Linked DNA regions of Homo sapiens. The protein of the gene in region 2 purifies or fractionates together with the protein of the main gene of each other region. This does not show direct contact. Each region holds a gene or a part of one and is shown on either strand. Other genes may lie near its edges. The genes, in order: SH3GLB2, GTF2E1 and HARS1.

Evidence for each region.
Region 1: the proteins of GTF2E1 (region 2) and SH3GLB2 fractionate together in Homo sapiens (co-fractionation; one large-scale study listed by BioGRID). This does not show direct contact.
Region 3: the proteins of GTF2E1 (region 2) and HARS1 fractionate together in Homo sapiens (co-fractionation; one large-scale study listed by BioGRID). This does not show direct contact.

The regions. Positions count from the first base shown.
Region 1 is NC_000009.12:129,008,810-129,011,362, reverse strand, and holds part of SH3GLB2 (endophilin-B2), read left to right. Parts: intron 1-597; coding exon of another isoform or gene 598-669; coding exon 670-693; intron 694-1,153; coding exon 1,154-1,243; intron 1,244-1,491; coding exon 1,492-1,592; intron 1,593-1,895; coding exon of another isoform or gene 1,896-1,910; intron 1,911-2,016; coding exon 2,017-2,257; intron 2,258-2,553.
Region 2 is NC_000003.12:120,770,235-120,773,889, forward strand, and holds part of GTF2E1 (general transcription factor IIE subunit 1), read left to right. Parts: intron 1-493; coding exon 494-695; intron 696-3,655.
Region 3 is NC_000005.10:140,677,800-140,681,454, reverse strand, and holds part of HARS1 (histidine--tRNA ligase, cytoplasmic), read left to right. Parts: intron 1-1,571; coding exon 1,572-1,667; intron 1,668-2,327; coding exon 2,328-2,453; intron 2,454-3,439; coding exon 3,440-3,547; intron 3,548-3,655. UniProt on the Homo sapiens protein: Catalyzes the ATP-dependent ligation of histidine to the 3'-end of its cognate tRNA, via the formation of an aminoacyl-adenylate intermediate (His-AMP). Plays a role in axon guidance.

The DNA.
Region 1 (2,553 bases), on a different chromosome or scaffold from region 2:
GCAGCATGGGGGCCACACGGGCCGGCCACGCACACTGGCCTGGGTCCGCATTCCCTATTTCAGGCTGTTGTCTCGGGTCAGATCTCCGGAAGCGGCAGGAGCGCTGGGTCTCCTGGTCGTGGCCGGGCAGCGTCTTTCTTCTTCAGGGTCTGGATGCCACTTCCCGCCTCCTCCCTGTGCCCAGTGGAAGGAGAAACATCCTAGAGGGTGGAGACTGCCCTGTTTTTCTTTTGCCATTGAGTCCCAGTGTGACTCAAGCACGAGGCCACCTTTCTCTGCCAGAGGACAGAAAGCTTCAGTGACTGGCCCAGGGTCACACAGTTCTGCCGCCCAGCCCAGCAGCCTGAGCCAGCAGTCAGGATGGGGTGGGGACACTCCGTCTCTCTTGAGACCCCACTCAGAGAATGGGGCTGACACTGTAGGAGAAATATAAGCAGGACTCCTGCTGGCTGCTCCCCTCCTGCATGAGGCATGTTAGAGGGACTGGGACCGCCAGCCCCCAGCTCCCATGCCGGGCCTCGGCCCAGTCTCAGCTCCTGTTTGGGAGGGGGGGCAGAGGGGCAGGGGGGCAGAAGTTGAGTCTGGGAGCTGGGGCAGGGCACAGGCTCTAGGGTCCAGCTGTCCTCCTCTCCCCTCCCCTGCTGGCCACTCCTGCTGCCGTCTCCACAGCTCTGGAATGATGAAGTGGACAAGGTAAGTTGGGGCCTGGGGGGCTGGGCTCGAGGAAGAAGGGGTGGCGGGGTGCAGGCACACTTGCTGCTGTGGGGTCTGATCTGTTTCTCACTCTGCCCCACACCCACTGGGGAGGGGTTACTGCTTTCCCTCCCTGGGCCTCAGTTTCCCCTCTGTGGGGAAATGTTTTCTCCACAGTACCCTGTAGCACACAGTAGGCCCTCAGGATGCACTTGCTGGGTGGATTTCTCCGATGGGTGATGGAGGAAGGGTCTGTCACTGCAGCTGCCTGTGGGGTCCTGAGTGGGGCTCTAGCTTCTCTGGGGTTGGGGCTCCAGGTGTGAAGTCAGGCATAGACCCAGAAGGCTCTCTGTGTTCCCAGGGGAAAGGGACAGGCGGCTCCCAGGTAGGCTCCAGGAGAAGACTGCGGGGAAGCTGGTGGGTGGTGTGTGGGTGCTCATGGCTGCCCTGCCCTGCCCAGGCCGAGCAGGAGCTCCGCGTGGCCCAGACAGAGTTTGACCGGCAAGCAGAAGTGACCCGTCTCTTGCTGGAGGGAATCAGTAGCACTCACGTGAGTCCCACTGCCCACCCTCACTAAACCTAACCCTCAGCAGGCACCAGGTGTGCCTGAACCACAAGGTCAGCAGGGCTGCCCCAGAATGGCCCTCACAGAGCAAGTCCCACCGGGGAGGGTGTGGGCGCAGGGGCAGGGCACCCTGGAATGCCGGAGCAAGGTCTGGTAGAGGACGGGGATGGGGACGGAATTTTTTGTTCTGAGGGCGGGAGGTTAGAAGTCAGCCTCTGGCCTCTTCCCCGCAGGTGAACCACCTGCGCTGCCTCCACGAGTTCGTCAAGTCTCAGACAACCTACTACGCACAGTGCTACCGCCACATGCTGGACTTGCAGAAGCAGCTGGGCAGGTGCGGGGCCAGCACTGCTGAACCCACTGGGGCCCCCTGGCTCCCATACCCTGTCCGTGGGCAGCATGAGCTCCTCTGGGCAAGTCCTGTGACACAAAGCTGGGTTGGAGGGCTCTGCTGGAACCCACTCTGGGTGCGGGCATCTCATGTGTATGAGGGTGGAGTGGCTGGCCTTACTGACGGCCAAGTCCCCTGGAGCCCCTGAGGGTTTCTAGGGAATGCCTGGGTGGGGAGGATGGCAGGGACCAGGGGGTGGGGCCATCTCACCCTTCCCTTGCTTTGCTTTTCCCTTTGTGCTGCCAGCTCCCAGGGTGCCATGTGAGTAGCCGGGGCTGGAGTGGGGCTCCTGGGGCTGGGGAGGGGAGTTTGCCTCTGGGGTCCCTTCTGGGACTCCCACCTGCTAAGATGTATCCCTCCTCTCCAGATTTCCCGGCACCTTCGTGGGCACCACAGAGCCCGCCTCCCCACCCCTGAGCAGCACCTCACCCACCACTGCTGCGGCCACTATGCCTGTGGTGCCCTCTGTGGCCAGCCTGGCCCCTCCGGGGGAGGCCTCGCTCTGCCTGGAAGAGGTGGCCCCCCCTGCCAGTGGGACCCGCAAAGCTCGGGTGCTCTATGACTACGAGGCAGCCGACAGCAGTGAGCTGGCCCTGCTGGCTGATGAGGTGGGCCCGGTGCCGCAAGGTGGGGCAGGAATGGGCTGGGTGAGGAGCAGCCTGGGCACTGGGATCAGGCACATGGGGCCTGGAGGGGCCCTGTTGGCAAAGTGGGGACCAGCAGGTTAAAGAGGGCATATCCAGCTCTGAGGAAAGGATCCTTGCTCTGCTGGGTCTCTGGAGCAAGTGAGATGAGCGCCAGCCACTGAAGGTGTAGCACATGCCACGGGCCATGGGGAGGTGGCAGCTCTGTCCCCACTTAGTCCTGGGGCCAGTTCCACCCTTGGCCAGGCCATGACCGTCCT
Region 2 (3,655 bases):
AGATTGAATTGATTAGATACAAATGGTTAATAAATTTTAAAAAATAGCCTGTGACAATGTTCAGGATGACTAGAAACTCTTGGTTTTAGGTATTTATTTGGCTTTCCCCATAACGTAGGCCCAAATGTGTAATGTGAAAACAAAAAAGACTAAAGCTGCCAGGAAAGGGTACAAGTTGTGGTGGTAAGCTGTAAAGAATTTGGCTTTAAGTTAAAATAAATACATATTAGAAATATTGTGATTAAAAACTATGCTGAAGTTAGGGATGAAATTACTTTGAATACATCAAAAATGATAGATGGATAGATATGTGATGAATAGCAAAATGCTAATTGTAGAATCTAAATGGTGGTCACATGGCTGTTCACTGTGAAATTCTTTCAACCTTTGTGTATATTTGAAAGTTTTAATAATAAGATATTGGGGGAGGGTGGAGGTATAAACTATCTGCTAAAGTCTTCTCTCTGACCTGAGATACTTGTTTTCTCTGTAGGAACTTTCCGCTGTACTTTTTGCCATACAGAGGTAGAAGAGGATGAATCAGCAATGCCCAAAAAAGATGCACGCACACTTTTGGCAAGGTTTAATGAACAAATTGAGCCCATTTATGCATTGCTTCGGGAGACAGAGGATGTGAACTTGGCCTATGAAATACTTGAGCCAGAACCCACAGAAATCCCAGCCCTGAAACAGAGGTGAGTGTAGGCCCTGTGCTCTTACTAAGAACACATTTCAACCTGTTCTTGTTTTAACTACCTGTACCTTGGAGAACAAGAGTGGGTAATTTACTAGGAGACTCAAGACTGTAATGTTACGTAGGTTCTCAGTTGTGCCACATTTGTCTGATTAACGTGTGCCTGTGATGAAATTCGTTTGTTCTAAATGCAGAACACTGTGGACTTCAGGCAAAAATCTTTAAATATTTAGGTTTGACTTCAAGTACTCATTCTGCTTGGGACTGCAGCAACTCAGCCAATTGTTAGCTAATCCTAAATTAGTTGTGCCGCTTGGGGATATTTGAATTTTCCTAGCCAGCTTCTGAAGGCTGAAGGCCTTTAAGGAATTCAGCATTTTCTTTTTTGTTTTTGAAGCATTTTAATCACCTTTATTTCTTAGTTGTAATTGCAACTTCCTTGAAAGTAAAGTATAGCTGGTGTTACCTATGGGTTAATACTCCTAACAGTGGCTCCCTATTTTTATCAGTGTTCCCTAATGTTTGAATTTCAGAGGTAACCTTAGTTTTGCCATGCCAGAAAAGGTGGTTTATATTCTTTCTTGAAAAGCATAAATGAAAATTGGGGTCAGGGAGTGCTCTCCTACTCTACCCTTTTTTTTCTCTCCCTCTTCCCAGCATCAAGTAAGGGATATCTTTATTTAACCTTCACTTCACCCACTCCCTTCCAAAGAGCTCAACAATCAGGCTGTATTTGTATAGTTTTTAGGAGCATTCTTAGTATTTTATTTCCTGTGGTACTGATGTTACAGAATAGCCAGTCCTGAGTAAATTGGGCTCCTTTTAGATGGTTCAAAGCAATCCAATTCTACAGAAAATTTTGTATCTGTAAGAGTTATGAATTTTCTAATCCAGTACCGTGTGTCAGTTAGGATGCCTTTGCCTGTGATAACAGAATATCCAGCTCTAGTTGGAATTAGAATCCAGTCTAGCAGTAGATTGAACAATAAGAAAATTTGTCTTGCATGACTAGAAGTCTTGAAGTAGTACAGTTCAAAACTGGTTAATTTCACAGCTCAATTATATCTTCAGGGATCTAGATTTGTTCCATCTTTATACTCTGCTGAACTCAGCCTGTTGATTATCCTCTTGGGACCATGAGGGGAGCTAGTCTAATATGGCCATGTATTTCTAGGTATCACGTGCAGATGACAATGTCCAAATGCAGAAAAAGGGACCGTCCCTTCCTTGTGTCCTATTTTAAAACTGAAGAAAGGTTTCCCAGAGGGCTCCCTAGGATACTCTATTTATCCCCTGATGTCTCACTGGCTGCAATTGTTTTATATGCATATTTCTAAACCAGCAGCTGGCAAAGGAAATGAGATCACATGACTGGTACTTAGACTAGTTAAGGTTTACCTTCTAGGACTGGGGAAGGTCCCAGAGTTCTTTGGAGCAAATTGCCATTGGTATTTTAATAAAACCAATAAGCAAAGAAAGAAAGGAGCCACAGTTGATAGGAAACTAATAACATCTGTATCACAGATAGCCTTAACTTTTGGTACTGGTTATTTATTTCTTTTTGTGTAAGAAAAGGAATTCCTCTTTTGAAAAAGGAATTTTTCTTTTTGTATCTTTTTCAGTCCTTTTAAGTTATATTGTAGCTCTAACATACAAGCTTATGAGGGAAATTGATTTTACAAAAATACAAAATTTTCTAAGCTTATGGATTATTTCATGTTGAAGTATGCGTCAGTGTAGTATCTGATTGCTTCCTACACAATATACTATCTGAATTATTCTGATGTTTCCTCTCCTACCTGTAGTTATTTGTCCTGTTTATCAAGATGCTTCCCCACTACAATAGCATTCAGTCACCACCACCACTGGCTTCCTGTCTCTAATGTTCTCCACCTACCACAATCCAGCTCCCCTTCCAGGATCTTTATTTCCATATCCCCCACTCACTGCAGGCCTTGGATGAGTCTTAGTGGTACAGTGACACCAGAGGCCCAACAGCAGCTCTCTGTATCAAGTCATCTTCTTCTTATCAGGAATGATGGTGACTCCAGGGATGAAGAAGAACCAGGAAATAGAGGAAATAAACTGATCAGGAAAAAAGGATACCCAAAAATCTGGTCATTAAGAAAAAAGGGAGGAAATGGAGGCAGACAAGAAAGACAGAATGGGGTTCCTAGAGCTGCCAGCCAGACCAAAGTAAAATCATTTCCACGTGGTCAGGAAAAAAACCATTAGGTTAGAAGATGTTACCCAGGTTATAATGTCCCCACCAAAGCATTTGACAAATTCCACTGCTTGGATATAACATCCTGGAGGTGGTATTGATTTGGCCTTTCTGTACTATAGGAGTATGAAGTTTTGAAATGGCCCATCCTGCCCCAAGGATGTAATAGTCCATCCTGCCTCAGTACAAGAGAAGAGGCATCAATAGAATGGTATGGGAACTCAGAGATGATAGCTTTTCTTTTTTTAAATAAGTGGCAATATTATTAGTTTGATTACTGATCTGTAATCAGTTAAATTCTAGCTTGTCCCTAGATCAGAAACTAGGGGCTACCTCTGCAGAACTGTCAGTAGGCCTAACCCAAGAATTGATGGACAATTCTATCCTTTCAGCAAGTCAACCTATTGATGAGATATAAAAATCTTCCTATCTTTCTAGAGTGGAATTCCTTGCTAGTAACCTTCCCTTTTTCATCATCTCTTAACACTTACCTTAAAGATTTTTAAAAATTTAGTTTTGAAATAATATTCCCCTCTCATCTCTGAGTAAGAGTTGTATCTTTTAAAAGTTCTAAAATTTATTAAATAATATAAAAAGATTCAAACATGAATTGTCATTTTTGTCATCTTCAATTAAAATTGTTCCAAATTTTAAAATTTGTTTGACTTATGGTCAAATGTCTGCTGCCTCAAACTAGAATAAAACCCATCTTGAATTTCTATGACAGAATACTAAAA
Region 3 (3,655 bases), on a different chromosome or scaffold from region 2:
GGCCTCCAGTGATTCGCCCACCCCAGCCTCCCAAAGTGCTGGAATTACAGGCATGAGCCACCGCGCCCAGCCTCCCTTTGTCTTTACATCGTCTTCCCTCTGTCCCTATCTAAATTTTCTCTTCTTACAACAACATATTGGATCAGAGCCCAACTTGGAGACCTCATGTTAGCTTAATCATCTCTTTAAAGACCCTATCACCAAATGTAGACATGTTCAGAGGTTACTGGGAGTTAGGACTTAAACAAATGAATTGGGGAGGGTGGGGCCAGGGGGACACAGTTCAGCCCGTAACACTAGTGTGTTACTGTTTCTGATACTGCATACTGGGAAGTTTCAGGCTTTTTAATCTTTGCCAACCTGGTAAGTGAAATATGCTATTACCGATGATAGACATCACAGGGCAAGGACTGCTGTAATGCCCTTAAGACATTCCCCAGTTTTTACTTTTGACATTATTCGAATCTCAGGCATCAAAAAACATTTATGTTTATTGGTCTGATAACCTATTCCTAGTAGTTTATCATCAAGAAAAATACTTTTTTTTAAAAAAAAAAAGAGCTATATACCTAAATATTAGATATTGAAATGTTATGGGGAATTTTTTTTTTTTTGAGACAGAGTTTCACTCTCGTCACCCAGGCTGGAGTGCAATGGTGCGATCTCTGCTCACTGCACCCTCTGCCTCCCGGGTTCAAGCGATTCTCCTGCCTAAGCCTCCGAATAGCTGGGATTAGATGCCTACCAGCTCCCCCAGCTAATTTTGTATTTTTAGTAGAGACAGGGTTTCACCATGTTGGCCAGGCTGGTCACGAACTCCTGACCTCAGGTGATCCATCCGCCTTGGCCTCCCAAAGTGCTGGGATTACAGGCGTGAGCCGCTATGCCTGGCCTAAAAAAATTTTTTTTTAAATTAGAATAACCTAAACACCTAACAGTATAACATGAGGGAGGAAGTAAGTACAGAGCTTCTTCTCACTGGAATTTATGCATCTTTTAAAAACACTTCAGGCCGGGCGCTGTGGCTCGCACTTGTAATCCCAGTACTTTGGGAGGCTGAAGCGGGCAGATCACGAGGTCAAGAGATCGAGACTATCCTGGCCAACATGGTGAAACCCTGTCTCTACTAAAAATACAAAACTTAGCCGGGCATGGTGGCACCCGCCTGTAGTCGCAGCCACTCTGGAGGCTGAGGCAGGAGAATCTCTTGAACCCCGGAGTCAGAGGTTGCAGTGAGCCGAGATCACGCCACTGCACTCCAGCCTGGTGACAGAGCGAGACTCCATTTCAAAAAAAAAAAACAAACTTCATGCTGAGAAGTCTGAAGAAAAAAAAGATTTTTAAGAGGAAAATGTGTAAGAAAAATACTTCAGCTCTGTTACAAAATCAAAATAGAAAAAAACACAAAATTGGTGTTTCCTTTTAATGATAACTACATCAGACACCTAAGAATTGGGATAAAGAGCAGAGGGAAATGTAGACAAGTTGGAATCAGTCATGTTTGTTTTCAAAACTTCCTTTTAAATTGTTATGTTTATTATTATGACCACATTTATTTATGTTTTCTCCAGGAAACACTGATGGGAAAGTATGGGGAAGACTCCAAGCTTATCTATGACCTGAAGGACCAGGGCGGGGAGCTCCTGTCCCTTCGCTATGACCTCACTGTATCTTTCTAAACTTGGGCTCTTGAGACTTTGGATGGATTGGCACTCACTTGGCTCAGGTTTAAGAATGGTAGAGTAGGTAGGATCAAATATGAGGCCTTTGGCGATTAGGGGAATTATTTCTCTAAACCAGGAGTGGAACTTTGGCTAAACAGAGCATACACATCCTTAGAAATCTTCTGAATCCTGAGTGAGACCTCAGCTTGATGTCAGGGCCCAGTTCCAACTCTACAGTCATCCCCTGGCTCCAGAATACCTCTCCCCTGCCCTGTCCAGTGAACAAAATTCTTCTTAATGGACTAGCAACACATTTCCCTTGTCTCCAAGCTACACAGAGAATCATCTGCTTAGAAATCCCATATGGGGGCCTTTTTCTGGTCGCCTTTTTCTGGTCTGTGGCCAACCTGCCCAGCCCCTTGCCATGCTCAAAAAAGTCCAGTCAACACTACAAAAGGGAAAGGTGCCTTAATCTTTTTTGAGCCTTCAGCTACCTCATGTGGTAGCACAGCTGATGCTTTCTGATGTTTGTAAGTGCTATTAATCTTATGGGTGGCAGTTTTACCCACATAGGGAGGGGTTAGACCCCAGCTTCTGTTGGTGATGATAATCAACTTGCAGACAGTGATAGGAGGGGCTTTCTCCTTAACTCTTTGTCATCAGGTTCCTTTTGCTCGGTATTTGGCAATGAATAAACTGACCAACATTAAACGCTACCACATAGCAAAGGTATATCGGCGGGATAACCCAGCCATGACCCGTGGCCGATACCGGGAATTCTACCAGTGTGTGAGTGTTGGGAAACCGTGGGGCAGGATGAGTTACTTGGGGCTCTCTCAAGCCAGCAGAATCTATTGAGTACTCACGGTGTCCTGAGCAAATTGGATGACCCAGATAATGCTCTTAGGGTTTCTATGGTGGTTTTTTTGTTTGTTTTTTGTTTTTTTGAGACGGAGTCTCGCTCTGTTGCCCAAGCTGGAGTGCAGTGGTGCAGTCTTGGCTCACTGCAACCTCTGCCTCCTGGGTTCAAACGATTCTTCTGCCTCAGCCACCTGAGTAGCTGGGATTACAGGCGCCTGCCACTATGCCCGGCTAATTTTTTGTATTTTTAGTAGAGACGGGGTTTTACCATGTTGGCCAGGCTGGTCTCGAACTCCTGGTCTCATGATCCGCCTGCCTCGGCCTCCCAAAGTGCTGGGATTACAGGCGTGAGCCACCGCACCCAGCCTCTTCTATGGTGTTTTCATGCAGATTTCACAAAATCCCTGTGGTGGGGGAGGAGAATAAAGTCTCTTCATTTTACATATGAGTAAACTTGATACCCAGCCCATGAAGAGATCATAGGGATAAGAAAGGCAAAGTCAGGACTAGAACTCTTGGTCCAGTGCTCTTTATTTTAAACCACAGTGATAGGATCACAGCAGAGAATAAGGAAATTAGCTTTGATACATCAAATCATCCAGACTGATGCCAGGGCTTCTGGATGAATAGGGAAAATGGCTAAGCACTAAAGCCATATAATCACCCCATCCAGTAGGAGGAGTTAAGAAGATGATGAAGTAGAAAATGAAGGAATAGCCCAGTAGATGGAAAGGAAACCAAAACTGGTGAGAAGCCCAAAGATGCCGGGGTTTACCTCTGGGCTGATGATCAGAAAATGAAAGAGAAATTCTATGCTTGAGTGCAACCAGGCCTTCCTAGAGGACAGAGCTCCCAGAGTCCCCCCTTCAGAAAGGTGAATCCCTGAAGACCGCTGGCTAACCCTCTCCCTGCAGGATTTTGACATTGCTGGGAACTTTGATCCCATGATCCCTGATGCAGAGTGCCTGAAGATCATGTGCGAGATCCTGAGTTCACTTCAGATAGGCGACTTCCTGGTCAAGGTCAGAGCTGACAAGGCTGGGAGGGCAAAGTTGGGCCTGGCCTCTCACAAGAGAAGATCCTTGTGCAGAGGGACCAGTAGCCTAAGTGACCATGACTATTGCAGGTCA